Regions from separate parts of the Homo sapiens genome. Here region 2 is linked to region 1. A link means that fine-mapping ties the variant in region 1 to the expression of a gene that starts in the linked region. Tissue or cell type: whole blood. Region 1 holds a variant in brackets; the other region holds the start of a gene. All regions are shown on one strand. Distances are between the middles of the regions.

Region 1 (8,175 bases):
CAGTGTATTTTGTTAAAATCATGGACTCGTTCATCTACTTTTCGTTGCCTGCGCTGCTGGGCCTGAGGCTGTTATGCCTTACGCTGTCCATCGGGCAGCTGGCACAAAGCTTCACACACAGTGGTTGTTCTTCCTGTAAGCATCGTCAGTAAATTTTCTATCACCACCATCAATGGGAAACCAGCAGCACTTCCTGCAGATAGAAGGCAACTGTGAAGTTAAACAGAATGAAACAAGATCCTGCTACCAAAGCCAGCTCGTTACAAGTGACTGCAGCATCTCTGAGCTCGAGGTCAGCTCTCTGCTGGTTAAAATGAGGGATTAGCAGGTGTCAAGGATGTGTTTGCATCACTGAAACTTGAATTTTTGAGGAACCAGAAAAGACTGGAGGAAAATGAGAAGGGCAACAGCTTTCCAACGTTGTGCCTCAGGCCGCATCACCTGGCATCCATGAGCGTCCCCCACACAGCCCACTCTTGGGGGGCCACTTCTGCAGACTATGGATATGCCTTCATTTGCCTGCAGAAATCCAAGGCTGAAGGCTGTATAACTGACCCCCTCTCACAACAACAGCCAGGGCAGTGATGTGGCTGAATTTACATTCATTCATCAAACACTGTTTGAACACATACTCAGCGGGGCCTTGTTCTAGGCACTTGAGATATGACAGGGAGCAACGCCAAGGTCCCTGACCTCACGGAGGGGACGTTCTGGCCCAGAGAGACAGACAGCAGACAATGAATAGAACAAAGCAGTTATATGGTTCCTTAGAAGGGGATGTCAAGAGCTACAGGTGCCAGGTGTGGTGGCTCATACCTGTAATCCTAGCACTTTGGAAGGCCAAGGTGGGAGAATTGTTTGAACCCAGGAGTTTGAGACCAGACTGGGCAACATAATGAGACCTTGTCCCTACAAAAAAAAAAAAAAAATTGTTTCAATTAACTAGGCATGGTAACACATGCCTGTAGTCCCAACTACTAGAGAGGCTGAGGTGGGAGGATCGCTTGAGCCCAGGAGGTCAAGGCTGCAGCGAGTCATGATTGCACTTCTGCACTCCAGTCTGGGTGACAGATGAGACCTTGTCCCAGAGGAAAAAAAAAAAAAAAAAAAGAGCTACAGGGAAAGACAGAGTAGAGCGGAATGGAGGGGCTCATAGGTGCCAGCGTGGTAGGGAAGGTGGATTAGGTTACATTCTTAAAGCCGAGTCTGGTGGCTCATTCCAGTAATCCCAGCACTTCGGGAGGCCAAGGCTGGTGGATTACTTGAGCCCAGGAGTTCGAGACCAGCCTAGGCACCATAGTCAAACCCTGTCTCTACAAAAAAAAAAAAAATTAAAAATAAAAATAAAAATAAGCCAGGCATGGTGGTGCATGCCTATAGTTCCAGCTACTTAGGAGGCTGAGGTGGCAGGACCCTTGAACCCTGAAGGGTGAGGCTGCAGTGAGCCATGATCACACCACTGCATTCTGGCATGGGCAATAGGAGTAAGACCTGGTCTCAAAAAAAAAAAAAAAAAAAAAAAGATTGCGTTCTTAAATAGGATGGTCAGGGTGGGCTTCACGGAGAAGCTGACCTTGCAGCAGATGCTTGAGGGAGGTGAGCGAGTTGGCCATGTGAGTGGGTGTCTGGGTGAAGAGTGTTGTAGGCAGTGAAACAGCCAGTGCAAAGGCCCTGGGGCAGGAGCATGCCTTGAGTGTTCCAGAACAGCAAGAGGGCCTGGAGGGGTAGAGCAGAGCAACCAGGAGGAGAGGCAGTCAGAGAGGAGATAGGAGGTGGTAGAAAAGGCAGTCAGGGAGCTGATGGGAGGCAGTAGGAGAGGCGGTCAGGGAGGTGATGGGAGGTGGGAGGAGAGGCGGCCAGGGAGGTGATGGGAGGAGAGGCAGTCAGGGAGGTGATGGGAGGAGAGGCGGCCAGGGAGGTGATGGGAGGAGAGGCAGTCAGGGAGGTGATGGGAGGTGGGAAGAGAGGCAGTCAGGGAGGTGATGGGAGGTGGTAGGAGAGACTGTGGTCAGAGAGGTGATGGGAGGCAGTAGGAGAGGCAATCAGGGAGGTGATGAGAGGTGGTAGGAGAGGCGGTCAGGGAGGAGATGGGAGGTGGTAAGAGGGGTGGTCAGGGAAGAGATGGGAGGTGGTAGCAGAGGTGGTCAAGGAGGTGATGGGAGGAGATGGGGGGCAGTAGAAGAGGCTGTGGTCAGAGGTGATGGGGAAGGGACGGGATGACCGGATGGGGTTGGGCTTGTTGGCTACTGTTAAGGCTGCTTGTTTAGAAACTGAGAATCATCACAGGGTCTTAAACAGAGGAGGATTATGATCTGGTTTGTTAGAAAAGGGAACAAGCCCTGCTATGTGTTGTTGAGTAAAGAGAACAGAGGCAAGGGGCAAGGGAGTGGGCAGGTGAGGGATGCTGGGAGTGCAGGCAGGGTGTGGCCAGAGGAGGTGAGAAGCCATGAGATTCCGGCTATGTCTGGAAGGCAGAGCCAGCAGGGCATTCTGACCCCCGCTATGAGAGAGGCAAGCCAAAGCTGACAGCAAGGCTGTGACCTCTGTGGGTGGCAGGCACCATCCCCTGGGAGGGGAGGACTGTGGGAGGAGGAACAGATTGATGGAGAATGAGGGGGTGGGAAGAGGGGACCCAAAGTTCTGTTTAGGGCAAGTGGGAGACAATTGGTCAACATCCAAATGGGAAGTCAAGTGAGCGTGGATACACATGTGATGTTTGGGAGGGAAGGGATGCCCAGAGATGCGAACATGAGGGTTGTCGGCTCGGGAACGGAATTCCATGAGACTTGGCAGGACGACTGAAGGGGCAAGTGAGGTTGGAGGTGAACCAGGATCCCCCGGTGTCCTGAAAGCCAAGTGCAGAAAGTGTGCGGAGAACACAGGTGTGACCGCCTGATTCAGGGGCTTCTGAGGGGAAGGCGAGGCCCGCGCATTGCACTTGGGATATGGCCATGTGTTCATGGAGACCTGGACAAGGAAAGCTTTGATGGGCGGGAGAAGCGGGTTGGTCTGGGTTTTAGAGAGAAGTGGAGAGAGGAACTGGAAGTGTGATTGTTAAATCTGTGGAATCAGGCCAGGCGCAGTAGCTCACACCTATAATCCCAACACTCTAGGAGCCGAGGCAGGAAGATTGAGCCCAGGAGTTTGAGACCAGCCTGGGCAACATAGTGAGACCCCATCTCTACAGGAAAGAACAACTTTAAAAATTAGCCAGGTTGTGATAGCATGCACCTGTGGTCCCAGCTACTCGGGCGGCTGAGACGGGACCGTGATCCTTTGAGCCCAGGAGGTCAAAACTGCAGTGAAGAAGTAAATTTGAAGATCACAGACCTCCTTAAGACCCACTCATCTTCCCAGAAACTCACACCTGGGCACATAATTTGGCGTCTACTCTCAGGGAGTTCATGGCCCCCATGAAGCCTCAGGGAATGGACCATCTATGTGTAGAAGGCTAGATGTACCCTCTCCTGGGAGGCAGGGGAGATGGGCGGTGGACTGAATAATGGCCCCTCTACATCCTAGTCCCCCCGAACCTGATGTTTCCTTATATGGTAAAAGGGACTTTGCTGAATGTAATTATATTAGGGATCTTGTGATGGGGTGATTATCCTGGTTTATCCTGGAATGCGGGAGGGCCTGTGATGATGGAAGCAGAGACTGGAGATCTTTGAAGGTGGAAGAAGGGGCTGCCAGCCAAGGCGGCTATTAGAAGCTGAAAAAGACACGGAAATATAATAGATTCTTTCCTCAGGGCCTCCAGGAGGAACCAGCTCTGCCATCCCTGGACTTAAGCCCAGTGGAACTGATTTCACACTTCTGGCCTCCAGAATTTTAAGAGAATAAATGTGGCTGGGCGTGGGGGCTCATGCCTGTAATCCCAGCACTTTGGGAGGTCGAGGCAGATGGATCACTTGAGGTCAGGAATCCGAGACTAGACTGGCCAACATGGTGAAACCCCATCTCTACTAAAAAAAAAAAAAAATACAAAAATTAGCTGGGCGTGGTGGGGCGTGCCTGTAGTCCCAGCTACTCAGGAGGCTGAGGAGTATTCCTTGAACCAGGGGCGGAGGTTGCAGTGGCTGAGATCATGCCACGGCCCTCCAACCTGGGCAACAGAGTGGGACTCTGTCTTAAGGGGAAAAAAAATGATGTTTTA[CAGATTTGTTTTATG/C]CCCAAGTTAAGGTTTACCAAGCAGCTGGCACGCTTTAGGGACCCAACAAATGCTAGTCCCTTTTCTTGTCCATTGAATGAACTCAACATTCCTTTAACCTTCCACATGTGATAACAGCACCTGCTATGTGCCAGCTGTAGACGGTACTGAGTTACTTCCTGTGCCCAAGTTCATCTCTAAACTTGGACCCCCCGACCCTTCACCAGGGACCTCATTCCTCTAACTCTTGGCACTCCCTTCTCCTATCTCAGGGTCCAGATTTTGGCTATGTAACTCGAGGGCCCCAAACAGGGGGTATCAGTGGACTGGACTCCTTTGGGAACCTGGAAGTGAGCCCCCCAGTCACAGTCAGGGGCAAGGAATACCCGCTGGGCAGGATTCTCTTCGGGGACAGCTGTTATCCCAGGTAAGGAGGGGAGTAACAGGAAGGGGTGGCCAGGACCCAGGTATGCCGTAGAAAAGCAGAGGCCAGAGTGGAAGCCTTGCCTTCCTGCTTCCGATTCTAGACAGCCCAACAGACTTGAGGGAGTGTGAGAGGAATCCAAGCGCAGGGTGAGGAATGCGGGCTTTGGAGCCCATAGACCCAAGTTCAATTCCAGCCCTGCCACTTACCCTCTTTCAGTCAGTGAATATTTACTGAGCATCCAAAATGTTCTGGGAGCTGGGAATGCAGCCGTGGACAAGAAAGACAAGTCCTTACCACTACTCTAGTAGGGAAACAGATGATAGAAAAGTAGACAAGATAACTTCAAATGACAAAAACAAAAGAGAGGGGCACGGGAGGAATAGGAACTGTTAGGGTGACCAGGGAGGTCCTCTCTGGGGAAGGGGCTTTTGAACTGAGGCCTAATGACAGAAGGGACAGGGCCACCTGGAGATCTGGGACAGAGAGTTCCTGGCAAATGAAAGTGCATGTGCAAAGGCCCTGAGGCAGGAATGAGCTCCTGCGTGCAAGGCCAGGATGGCTAGAACCTATTGAACAAGAAGAGGCTGGGCACAGTGGCTCACACCTGTAATCCCAGCACTTTGGGAGGCCAAGGCAGGTGGATTACCTGAGGTCAGGAGTTCGAGACCAGCCTGACTAACATGGCGAAACCCCGTCTCTACTAATGCAAAAATTAGCTGGGCCTGGTGATGCATGCCTGTAATCCCAGCTACTCGGGAGGCCGAGGCAAGAGAATCGCTTGATCCCGGGAGGCGGAGGTTGTAGTGAGCCGAGATTGTGCCAGCCTGGGCAACAGAGCAAGACTCTGTCTCAAAAAAAAAAAAAAAAGTGAGGAAGAACAAGGCACTGCAACACTAATTTTTTTTTTTAGGAGAAAACTGAGGCTCAAACAGGTGAAGGAATGTCCCCAAGGCCACATGGCTAACAAGAGATCACCGACTTAGGTCAGACTGGCTCTAAGCCCCATGTGTACCCAGAATACCAGCATCTCATCTAACTCAAGAGGCAGTGCTTTCTGAGGCTAAGCTCTGTTCTACTTACCTTAGTGACTCTGTGCCTCAGTTTCCCCCAATAAAACTAGAATGACAATTCCTTGATTTCTCAAATGTTAGGGGATAAAATAAAGGCATTCTAGACTCCTGCATCCCTTTCTCAGCTGAAGGAGAACCCTGACCTTTTTGCCAAGCCCCTTGTCCTTCAGGGACTTCCCTGTAGCCCTTGCTGCCGATAACACCCCTTTAACCCTGCCATGACAGCAATGACAGCCGGCAGATGCACCAGGCCCTGCAGGACTTCCTCAGTGCCCAGCAGGTGCAGGCCCCTGTGAAGCTCTATTCTGACTGGCTGTCCGTGGGCCACGTGGACGAGTTCCTGAGCTTTGTGCCAGCACCCGACAGGAAGGTACAGTCTTGGGGGCTGCCTCAGGAAGCCATGCCTCCTTCCTGGGTAGACCCTCTGCCTGGGGTGGGAGCAACTTTACTTGTCTATTTCTCCTTCACCCTTAGGATGGCAGTAGAGGAGGTGGCCAGCTTGGGTCCAAGTCCACACTACTCCCACCCTCAGCAGATCCACCCTCGTTGGGAGCTCCAGGGGCAAAGCTGACTTCTAACCCCAGTGTTTCTGCCTCCAGGGCTTCCGGCTGCTCCTGGCCAGCCCCAGGTCCTGCTACAAACTGTTCCAGGAGCAGCAGAATGAGGGCCACGGGGAGGCCCTGCTGTTCGAAGGGATCAAGAGTAAGTCGGCCCTGCCTTGTTCTCCTGTCTGTGCACCTTCCTGCTTCCCATAGTCCGCTGTTGCCTGGAGGGAATCATCCAGGCAATAGGGTAGCATCTGAGCACCTACTGTGCGCCAGGCACTGTGCCAAGTGCTAGGGAGACTGCATGAACAGGGCAGAACAGCTTGCTGCCCTGTGGGCTCACAGGCCAGGGGGAAGTGAGTCAAAAGAACAGCTCCAACACAGGGGCTTTGAGGGGTGTCTGAGTGGATGGAGCTCAGGGAAGGCTTCTTGGAGGAGGCAGAGGCCAAGCAGTAGCATGCAAGTAGGGGTTGGCTGGGCAAACGGGGCAGGGAAATGAGAGGAAGAGAGATACCACAGGCAGAGGGACGGGGGTGGGGCGGCTCAGAGGCAGGAGAAAGCACGATGTGTGTGAGGACCTCGGGGAGGTTCGGTATAGCTGGAGCACAGATGAAATATTACTCTCTCAGCAGAGCTCACAGACATGGGCCAGGCCCCGGGCTGAGATGCCTCTGTGGCTGAGAGCTCCACCTCAGATCTGAGTATGTTGTGTGGCATCAGGAGAGGGCTGACCTGTTTCTTCCTCTCTCGATGGGATCTCTTTGGAGATAAGATAATTTAGCGTTAATGCAAGGCAAAATGTTCCAGTGAACAAGTTTCATGGTTCAACTTTATAATAATTATAAGTAAACCTGTTAAATTTTTCTGGACATTCTTTTCTTTTGAAACGAAGTTTTCCTCTATTGCCCAGGCTGGAGTGCAATGGCGCGATCTCGACTCTCTGCAGCCTCTGCATCCCGGGTTCAAGTGATTCTCCTGCCCCAGCCTTCCGAGTAGCTGGGATTACAGGTGTGCACCACCACACCTGGCTAATGTTTTGTATTTTTAGTAGAGATGGGGTTTTGCCATGCTGGCCAGGCTGGTCTCGAACTCCTGACCTGGTGATCCACCCACCTCGGCCTCCCAAAGTGCTGGGGTTACAGGCATGAGCCACCACGCCTGGCTTAAAACAAGGACATTTCTTATTGACAGCAACTAAATGGTACTTGTAGCATTTTTATCACACAGTAGATTCCATCCATTCACTATACTTTTCTGAGCTGTCTGTCCTGCATGCAAGTAGATATTTTTAATGTTGTCTGTTTTCTGTGCTGTTCCTGTAAGTGTGCTATTAAAATACACTAAACTAGGCTGGGCGCGATGGTTCATGCCTGTAATCCTAGCACTTTGGGAGGACGAGGCGGGTGGATCACGAGTTCAGGAGTTCAAGGCCAGCTAGGCCAAGATGGTGAAACCCCGTCTCTACTAAAAATACAAAAATTAGCCGGGCGTGGTGGCGGGTGCCTGTAATCCCAGCTACTTGGGAGGCTGAGGCAGGAGAATCACTCGAACCCGGGAGGTGGAGGTTGCAGTGAGCCAAGAATGTGCCACTGCACTCTAGCCTGGGTGACAGAGCAAGACTCAGTCTCAAAAAAAAAAAAAAAAACAAGAAAATATTAAACTAGGCCAAGTGTGGTGGCTCACACCTGTAATCCTAGCACTTTGGGAGGCTGAGGCGGGTGGATCACCTGAGGTCAAGAGTTTGAGACCAGCCTGGCCAACGTGATGAAACCCCGACTTTACTAAAAGTACAAAAATTAGCTGGGCGCAGTGGTGCGCACCTGTAATCCCAGCTACTGGGGAGGCTGAGGCAGGAGAATCGCTTGAACTCGGGAGGTGGAGGTTGCAGTGAGTCAAGATCGCACTACTGCACTCCAGCCTGGGCGACAGAGCAAGGCTCTGTCTCAAAACAAAAAAAAAATTACACTATAAAAATATATTTTA
Region 2 (8,175 bases), 45 kb before region 1:
CTGGGTGCTGGGAACACAAACAGCCACGGCGTTAAGCCACCAGTGTTGAGTGACAAGTCTAGGCACTGGCCTTGCTCTCAGGCTAGCTGGGGGATGGGCATTTAAACACAAGGTGTGGCAAATCTCAGGAAAAGAATGAAGCGCTCTGCCAAAAAACTAAAGAGGGGCAAAGATGAATCTACAACATACCTGCAAATAACCACAGACACGGGCACAAGTGATGCATCGCTGCATGGTTTATGACACTGAAAACTTGCAGACAGCCCCCATGTCCAACAGTAGGGGAGCAGCCATGTCAGGATGCAGCTGGAGCTGCAGGCACAGGTGGGGCACGCGCCAGCCCCAAGTCTGTTGGCCTCTCATTCCACTGCCCTTGGCTCCTGCCCTCAGCCCTGCCCATCACAGAGCCCGTGGCCCTTGTTCCACTGTGAGTGACCAAGTGTGTTTCTACAAAGAGGCTTTGCTTCCAAAGTGCAGCCGTTTTCCCTCAGTGTGAGTGAGTGTGTGTGTGTGTGTGTGTGTGTTACAAACCTAGTTTTGCATTGCTCCCTGTGTAATTGCAAATAGCATGCATTCTCTTTTGCATCTCCTCTCCCTCATCACTCCCCTGGGTCTCTGGTGGAGGACCCCAGGGCTCATCCCTCGGCCTTCTCTCTTCCCTATCCTCACTCATTCCCTAGGGGAGCTGGAGATGTTGACATCTCACTGTTTTATCCTTTTCAGCCTGGTCCTGTCTCTTAAGCTCCGGAATCATGTGTTCAAACGTCCTACAGGGCATCATCACACCAAATGACACTTGGCAAAGCCAGGACCAAACTCCTGATCTCCACCATGCCCACCCCCCGCCCTTCCCTCAGCCTTCCCTGCCCAGCTGCGGGCAGCCCCATCCCTCCAGGGCCTCAGGCTCCAAACTGCGGTGTCCTCCTCCATCCCTCTGTCTTTCTTAACACCCCTCATCCAGTCCCTCTGCAACTCCTATTGGCTGTATTGCATCACAAAATGTCCAGAACCTGACCCATCCTCCCCTCCTCCACTGCCACCACGCTAGCCTGAGCCCCACCGTCTGTCACCAGCCTGTGTGCAGCGGCCACCTCACAGGTCTTCTGGCCTCCTCCCGGGTCCCCTACAGTCTGTTCTCACATCACAGCCAGAGTGATCACGTTCAAGCAAGTTGGTTCGCGGTCCTTCTCTGCTCAAAATGACTCCAGGCTCCCCACGTTACTTGGAGCAGAGGCCAAAGCTCTTAGGATGCCCGAAAGGCCCTATATGATCGCACCCCGCCCTGGGCTGCTCTCCCCCTCCCTCACTGCATTTCAGCCACACTGGCCTCTTTGCTCTTTCTTGAACCCGCCAGGCATGTCCCTGCCTCAGGGCCTTTGTACCGATTGCACTGGCTGTTCTCTTGACTTGGAACCTTCTCCCTGTGTTCCTGGTAGCCTTTACCCTGTCCTTTTTCCTTTTTCTACCCCACTAACATACGATAGAATCCACTTACTGCATTTATTGCTTACTGGCTGTCTCTCTCCCAACAAAAACAAACAAACAAAAAGGCTCTATGAAGGCAGGATTTTTGTCCACTTTGTTCACAGCGTATCCACGGTGCCTGGAACAGTGCCTGGCCATCAATAGGCACTCAGTCAGTATTTGTTGAATTAACAAAACTGCTTTGGGGCTCGTCCTCTTTGTGGCTCGTTCACAGCAAATTTAAACCCCAAACTGCTGAAGAAAATAAGAAAGAAAAGAAGGAACAGAAGAAAACAACCTCAAGAGACCTAAGACTTGGGGTAGAGGCCAGCCCTCCCTCTGATTTGCTGTGTGACCGTGGGCAGGTCCCACTCCCTTTCTGTGCTTCAGTCTCCCCTTCTGCAAAACGAGGACTGGATTGGGTGTTCTCTAAGGGCCCTCCCAACTCTAACAATGGACAGCTCCCTCCTGCCACTTCCCAGTAGAAGCTCAAACTAGTTCTAATCATGCGGTCAGCCAGAGAAATTGGGTTTATTAACACTGTGTGCAGGCAGTCATGTAGATGCGTCAGAACGTCGGACCTGGCCACATCATCATCTGCTGGTACAGAAGATAAATTTTGAGCCCAGAGAAGGTGGTCTGAATCCAGATCCCCACTGTAGGGCTTATGAGACCTTGGGGGTCTCACTCAATCTCTCTAAGTCTTTGTGGTCTCATCTACACATGGGCATCCTGATAGGACGCACTCCATAGGGATGTTGAGATGAGGCAGGATTTGAACTAAAGCCTGTTTGATCCCACAGCCTGACTCTGAATTAATGAGGCAAATTCTTTGCTTCAAAGCCAAAGCAAGCAAACAAAAAACAAACGCAAGATATCCAACCCACGAAACGCTCTATGTTCACGCCAGACTCCCATGCATGCACCCTTTGAGTGCTCCTTGTTGGGACCCATCCACCACCCCCCAGTTGCCTCATTAAAGGCAGAGCCTGGCACCAATGGCCCAGGTGCAACCACAGCTCTGAGGCCACATGGGCATCCCCCTGGCAGGCGTGGCCCACACCTGCACTGTCTGGTCTGACACCCAGAGGCCCTGGCAAGAGGCAGGTATCCTGGAGCATGCAGAGAACATCAACTTCCATGCCAGGAAGCTCATCTTCTCTTCCCAGCTCTGCCGCATTCTAGCTCTGGCACCTTGGGCAAGAGCTAGTCACTTTTACTCTCTGAGCCTCAATTTTCCTTCTGTAAAATGGGTTGTAATAATAAGCCCATATACACCTTGTATTGTAGCGAGATGTAGCTGTGATACAGTCTGGAAAGCACGTGTCATATAGACAGGCAGCTAATGAATCTCACACTCTGGAACTGGACACCTTTGGTTCCAATTCTGGCCCTACCACTCTCGAGCTGTGGAAGAACTGCACCTCTGTTTTCTCCTCTGTAAAATGGGTATAATAATGGCACCAACCTCAGAGGGCTGCTGTGAGGGTGAAATAAGGGGATAATGGTATGATCTAGTTCACGGGTTTGTCGTAATGAGCTATTCTATGTGAAGTGCAGGAAAACGTGCCTGGCATAGAGAATGTGAGCTGTCATGTGGGTGGCCCAGGTGGAGAGACTTGTCCCAAGCCTGGTTGGTCTTTGAACGTGTAGCCTGGCCTGTGACTGCTTACCTAAAATCTCCCCGCTTTTCCCACCTTCTCCTCTCTGATATGCCTGTTTGACATAGGTGAGATTGGATAGATCAAGGTGTTCAGGGCCTCTAGGCAGGGATGGGACTGTGGGCATGAGGACCAGGACCCAACCCCTCAGCCCCACTCTCCACCCCAGGCTTTCTGAGCCATCCATCCTTCCCAAGAAACTGACAGAGCCACCCTGCCACTGGTACCAGCATTGACACCCATCTAGAGGTCCGAGGGGCAGCCCCAGGGCAGAGGAGATTTTGAGAGCCCACACCCCTGACCTGAGTGGGGAGGGGTTGAGCCTCTGGGCCACAGACCGCAGGTGCTGACTCATGGCCTCTGCTGGGCGATATAAAGGAACCAGCCCAGGGGCTTCCTACAGCCAGAGGGACGAGCTAGCCCGACGATGGCCCAGGGGACATTGATCCGTGTGACCCCAGAGCAGCCCACCCATGCCGTGTGTGTGCTGGGCACCTTGACTCAGCTTGACATCTGCAGGTAAGAGGGGGGCCTTCTGGGGTTTTGGAGGCAGGTCAGGAGATGCTGGATGACCCAGTTCTACTGACACAGGAGCATGTGTTTGGCCCAGGCTCTAGGCTCCAGCCTCTGCAGCCACTGCCAGGGGAGTAGCTGGAGAGAGAAGACCCCAGCAGCCCTGGGAAGTGCCAGTCTCATGGCTGTGGGTTCTTTGCCATGTACAAGTGCAAATTCCCCAGGAACACACGACAGATAAATTATTATGGGGCAAACCAGGCCATCCATCTCCCTGTCTTCATCGAGGCAACAGAAGCTTACAGAGAGTCTGTGACTTGCTCAAGGTCACACAGCACGTGTGCCCTGGAAGTAAGGTTAGCCCCTGGGCCTCCTGGTTCACAGCACAGTTTGTTACCCCACATCTCTTAGCTAAGCCTCCCTCAGTGGGTGCATAATAGCGTGGGTGGGGATGGCGAAACGGGGCTCTGTGGCGGCAGAGACTGAGGTAGGAAGCCTGGACCTGCTGCTGGCTAGCAAGGAGGCCTTGGGCAACTGAGCCTCAGTTGCCTCATCTGTGAAATGGGGATAATACTCACATCATGGGCTGGTTATAGGAATTCAATGTGAAAAAATGTGCAGATGTTGGCTGAGTACTTAGCACAGTGGTGGGCCCATCCTTGGTAGTTTTTATTTACTCATTTAACAAATGCTGAGTGCCATGCTCTGTGGCAGGGTCTGGGTTAAACAAGAGAGTTGAGGAATGCTCTCGGGGAGTGTGCAGGGTCATTGTTGTTATTGTAGAACAGGAATTAAAAGAAATTTTAAAACGTGTAAGCAAAAACTCAGTTCTATGTTAAAAAAAAAAAAAACAATTTTCCCTGGAAAAAAAAAAAAAAAAGAGCTGGAGTCCCTTAAAAATTAACTGCCTGTTTTTTTGTGGCTAGTGAGCCTTATTGCTCCTCTTTTTCCAGGCATTGTAAAGACCCTGTTTCTCCAGCTGTGCAGCTGCAAGGTCACTAGACAGATAAACTCAAGCTGTAAAAATTTTTTTCCTTAAAAAGTAAAAAATAATATAATGCATGTCTCAATTAAATAACTGTCTTTGTTTCTTGCCTCTATAATATGCTTCCCCCTGCACAGATCTACCCCCGCCCCATGAAATGCTTAAAAGATAACTTAACTCTTTGTTCAGGGCTCAGTCTTTTGAAATGTTAGCCTGACTGAGCCAGTGAATCTAAATAATAAATCCTCCTCAACCCCTCGGTCTCTCTGATTCCTAAATTATCCTGCAACAATTGCTGTTGTCAGGAATAGGAGTGGTTGCCCCTGGCTTCCCCATCCCAGTCTGGGCATCGGTGGCCCTAGAATGGTGCCCACAGGAGTGCCGGGGACATTTCTTTGCTACTGCCTGAGCCCCAGCAGCCAGAGAACAGCAGGAAATGTCGGGATGGTCTCCCAGGGCCACATGGTGGAGGCAGGAGACCAAGAAGTTGGGGAGAAAAGGAAAAAGAAAATCACCTGACATCATCTGAGGCGCCCCCAACTCCTCTGAGAATGGGTGTGAAGGAAATGACAGGAGCTGAAGCTAGCCCAGGGCCTCTCCCAGCATGCCCAGGCTAGCCCTCTACCCAGCGTCCATGAGTAGTAATCAAGATCACAAGTGCTTCCTCTGGCCCTAGAGAGGTGGGTGGACAGCTGGTCAGTGTTGGGCAGAGAGGAAGGCACTGCCCATTTCTCCCAGAAAGGATGGGGACTCCGGAGTTCACAGGGGCCTCTAAATCCTTCTTTTCTCCTCCTTCAGCCACACGTTGAGCCTGTCACTCTATCCCCTGAACATCTCACGTAACAATGGCTAATATTTACATCACACTTCCTACATTCAACTCATTCAATGGCCTTGGGAGGCAGGTAATGTTGTTATTCCCATTTTACAAAAGAGGAAACAGAGGCTCCAAGAAGTTAAGTAACCCACCTCAAGCCACACAGCTAATAAGTAGGGGAGCCAGGACTCAACCCAGGCAGCCTGACTCTAGGACCCTCCATTCTCCCCATGGGTCTCCGTTCCAGACCTTCCTGTCACTTCTTATCTGTTCTTAACATAGCCCCAGACAGCGCCTCCCTCCCATCTCCTGAGCAGCCATCGGCCTCTTCCTGAACCACACAGGTGGGAGGGCCACTCCCTCCTCACCTCCGCCCCTCATATTCATGCCTCCATAACTTTGCTCAAGCCATTCTCTCTGTCCCCAAAGTCAGGAACCCGGGAGGCAGAGGTTGCAGTGAGCCAAGATTGGGCTAGTGCACTCCAGCCTGGGTGACAGAGTAAGACTCTGTCTCAAAAAAAAAGAGGCAAAAACACCTAACCGAGGGTCACATAAATTAAAGGTGGCAAGCTGGGCACGGTGGCTTATGCCTGTAATCCCAGCACTTTGAGAGGCCAAGATGGGCAAATCACTTGTGGTCAGAATTTCGAGACCAGCCTGGCCAACATGGGGAAACCCCGTCTCTACTAAAAATACAAAAAAATTAGACGGGGCGCAATGGCTCACATCTGTAATCCCAGCACTTTGGGAGGCCGAGGCAGGCGGATCACAAGGTCAGGAGATCGAGACCATCCTGGCTAACATGGTGAAACGCCGTCTCTACTAAAAATACAAAAATTAGCCGGGCGTGGTAGCACGCAGCTATAGTCCCAGCTACTTGGGAGGCTGAGGCAGGAGAATCGCTTGAACCCAGGAGGCGGACGCTGCAGTGAACCGAGATTGTGCCACTGAACTCCAGCCTGGGCAACACAGTGAGTCTCCGTCTCAAAAAAAAAAAAAAAAATTAGATGGGAGTAGTGGCACATGCCTGTAATCTCAACTACTCAGGAGGCTGAGGCACAAGAGTTGCTTGAACCTGGGAGGTGGAGGTTGCAGTGAGGCAAGATTGCACCACTGCACTCCAGCAAGGGCAACAGAGTGAGACTCTGTCTCAAAAAAAAAAAAGTTAAAGGTGGCAAAGCCAGGACTGTCTGACCCTAAACCCACCCTGCTTCGCAGCCCACCCTGCCTCCAAATGCTGGGGAGTGGACTCCCCTGGGCACTGCTCCCTGTGGGCAGAGCTCATTCAACTTCCAAAGGATTTGGTAAAGGCCTAGAAGGGGTGGGGGTCCAGGAGGTGCCAACTGCAAAGGGCAGTGTGCATTCAGAAGCTGCCATCTATGGTCTCTCTTCTTCCTCCCAAAGTCTCCTTCTTCTTTTTTTTTTTTTTAAAAACGGAGTCTCGCTCTGTCCAGCCCAGGCTGGAGTGCAGTGGCAAGATCTTGGCTCACCGCAAGCTCCACCTCCCGGGTTCACGCAATTCTCCTGCCTCAGCCTCCCCAGTAGCTGGGACTACAGGCGCCTGCCACCATGCCTGGCTAATTTTTTTGTATTTTCAGTAGAGACGGTGTTTCACCGTGTTAGCCAGGATGGTCTCGATCTCCTGACCTCGTGATCCACCCGCCTCGGCCTCCCAAAGTGCTGGGATTACAGGCTTGAGCCACCGCGCCCAGCCGGGTTTCCTTCTGAATAGACCAGTTGGCATGACAGTGGGGAGCCTGGACAAGTCTGTTTGTCTCTCTGAGCCTCGGTTTACCCATCTGTAAAATGGGAAAATTAACACCCCTTCCTGGGTTACGGCGAAGATTGAATTATATAATGCACACAAAGTGTCTGGCAGAGGGGTCCCCTTTCCAATGCAAATCAAAGAAAATGACTAAAGTGAGTGTCAATCATTTTCAGAGGTTTATTTCCAAGGTTAAGGACGTGCCCAGGAAAAGAATACAGAAACAGGAAAAATCTGTAGTCCGTGCTTTTTCCTAAATGGGTCTGGGACTTCAATATTTAAAGGGAAAAGAGTGGGAATTGGGCCGGATGTGGTGGCTCACGCCTGTAATCCCAGCACTTTAGGAGACCAAGGAGGGTGGATCACCTGAGGTCAGGAGTTCGAAACCAGCCTGGACAACATGGTGAAACCCCATCTCTACTAAAAATACAAAAATTAGCCGGGCGTGGTGGCAGACGCTTGTAATCCCAGCTACTCAGGAAGCTGAGGCAAGAGAATCACTTGAACCCAGGAGGCGGAGGTTGCAGTGAGCTGAGATTGCACCATTGCACTCCAACCTGGGCAATAAGAGTGAAACTCCGCCTCAAAAAAAAAAAAAAAAAAGTGGGTATTGGGGCAAAGAGGAAGAAAGAAAAAAAAGATGGGTAGATAAGAGGTAAGTGGTTGCATTGAGTCTTTGATCAGCTTTCACTGAATACATTTTCCGTGTGAGGTGGGGAGAGGAATAGTCACTTATGCCTTGAGCTCAGGGAATCTATATTGTCACAAATGATAAACATAGAGCAAGGGAAGAAATCAGATATGCATTTGTTGCAGGTAAGCAGAGGGATAACTTTGATTTCTGTCCTTTGTTCCATGCCTGTGAAGATAAGCTATTAACTTACATTGTCAGGGTGAAATTCAACAGAACTGGTTCACGGGAAAGATCTTAGGGCTCACAAGGAATTTCCTTGTCGGCAAATTGTGAGGG

What was found. PIP is the estimated chance that this variant, and not a neighbour inherited with it, causes the effect.
Region 2: it holds the start of PADI4, and the variant in region 1 is fine-mapped to the expression of PADI4 in whole blood (INTERVAL, PIP 0.96).

What each region holds. Positions count from the first base shown.
Region 1 is chr1:17,350,111-17,358,285 of GRCh38, forward strand. It overlaps PADI4 (peptidyl arginine deiminase 4), which reads left to right. Exons shown (of 16, transcript NM_012387.3): 11 at 4,423-4,577; 12 at 5,873-6,017; 13 at 6,247-6,349. Among named protein-coding and RNA genes, the nearest start is that of PADI6, 18 kb to the right of the region's middle. The variant CAGATTTGTTTTATG/C (reference allele first, on the strand shown) is at 4,157.
Region 2 is chr1:17,304,671-17,312,845 of GRCh38, forward strand. PADI4 (peptidyl arginine deiminase 4) reads left to right here and starts at 3,527. Exons shown (of 16, transcript NM_012387.3): 1 at 3,527-3,644. The coding sequence starts at 3,553. RefSeq lists an enhancer at 1-709.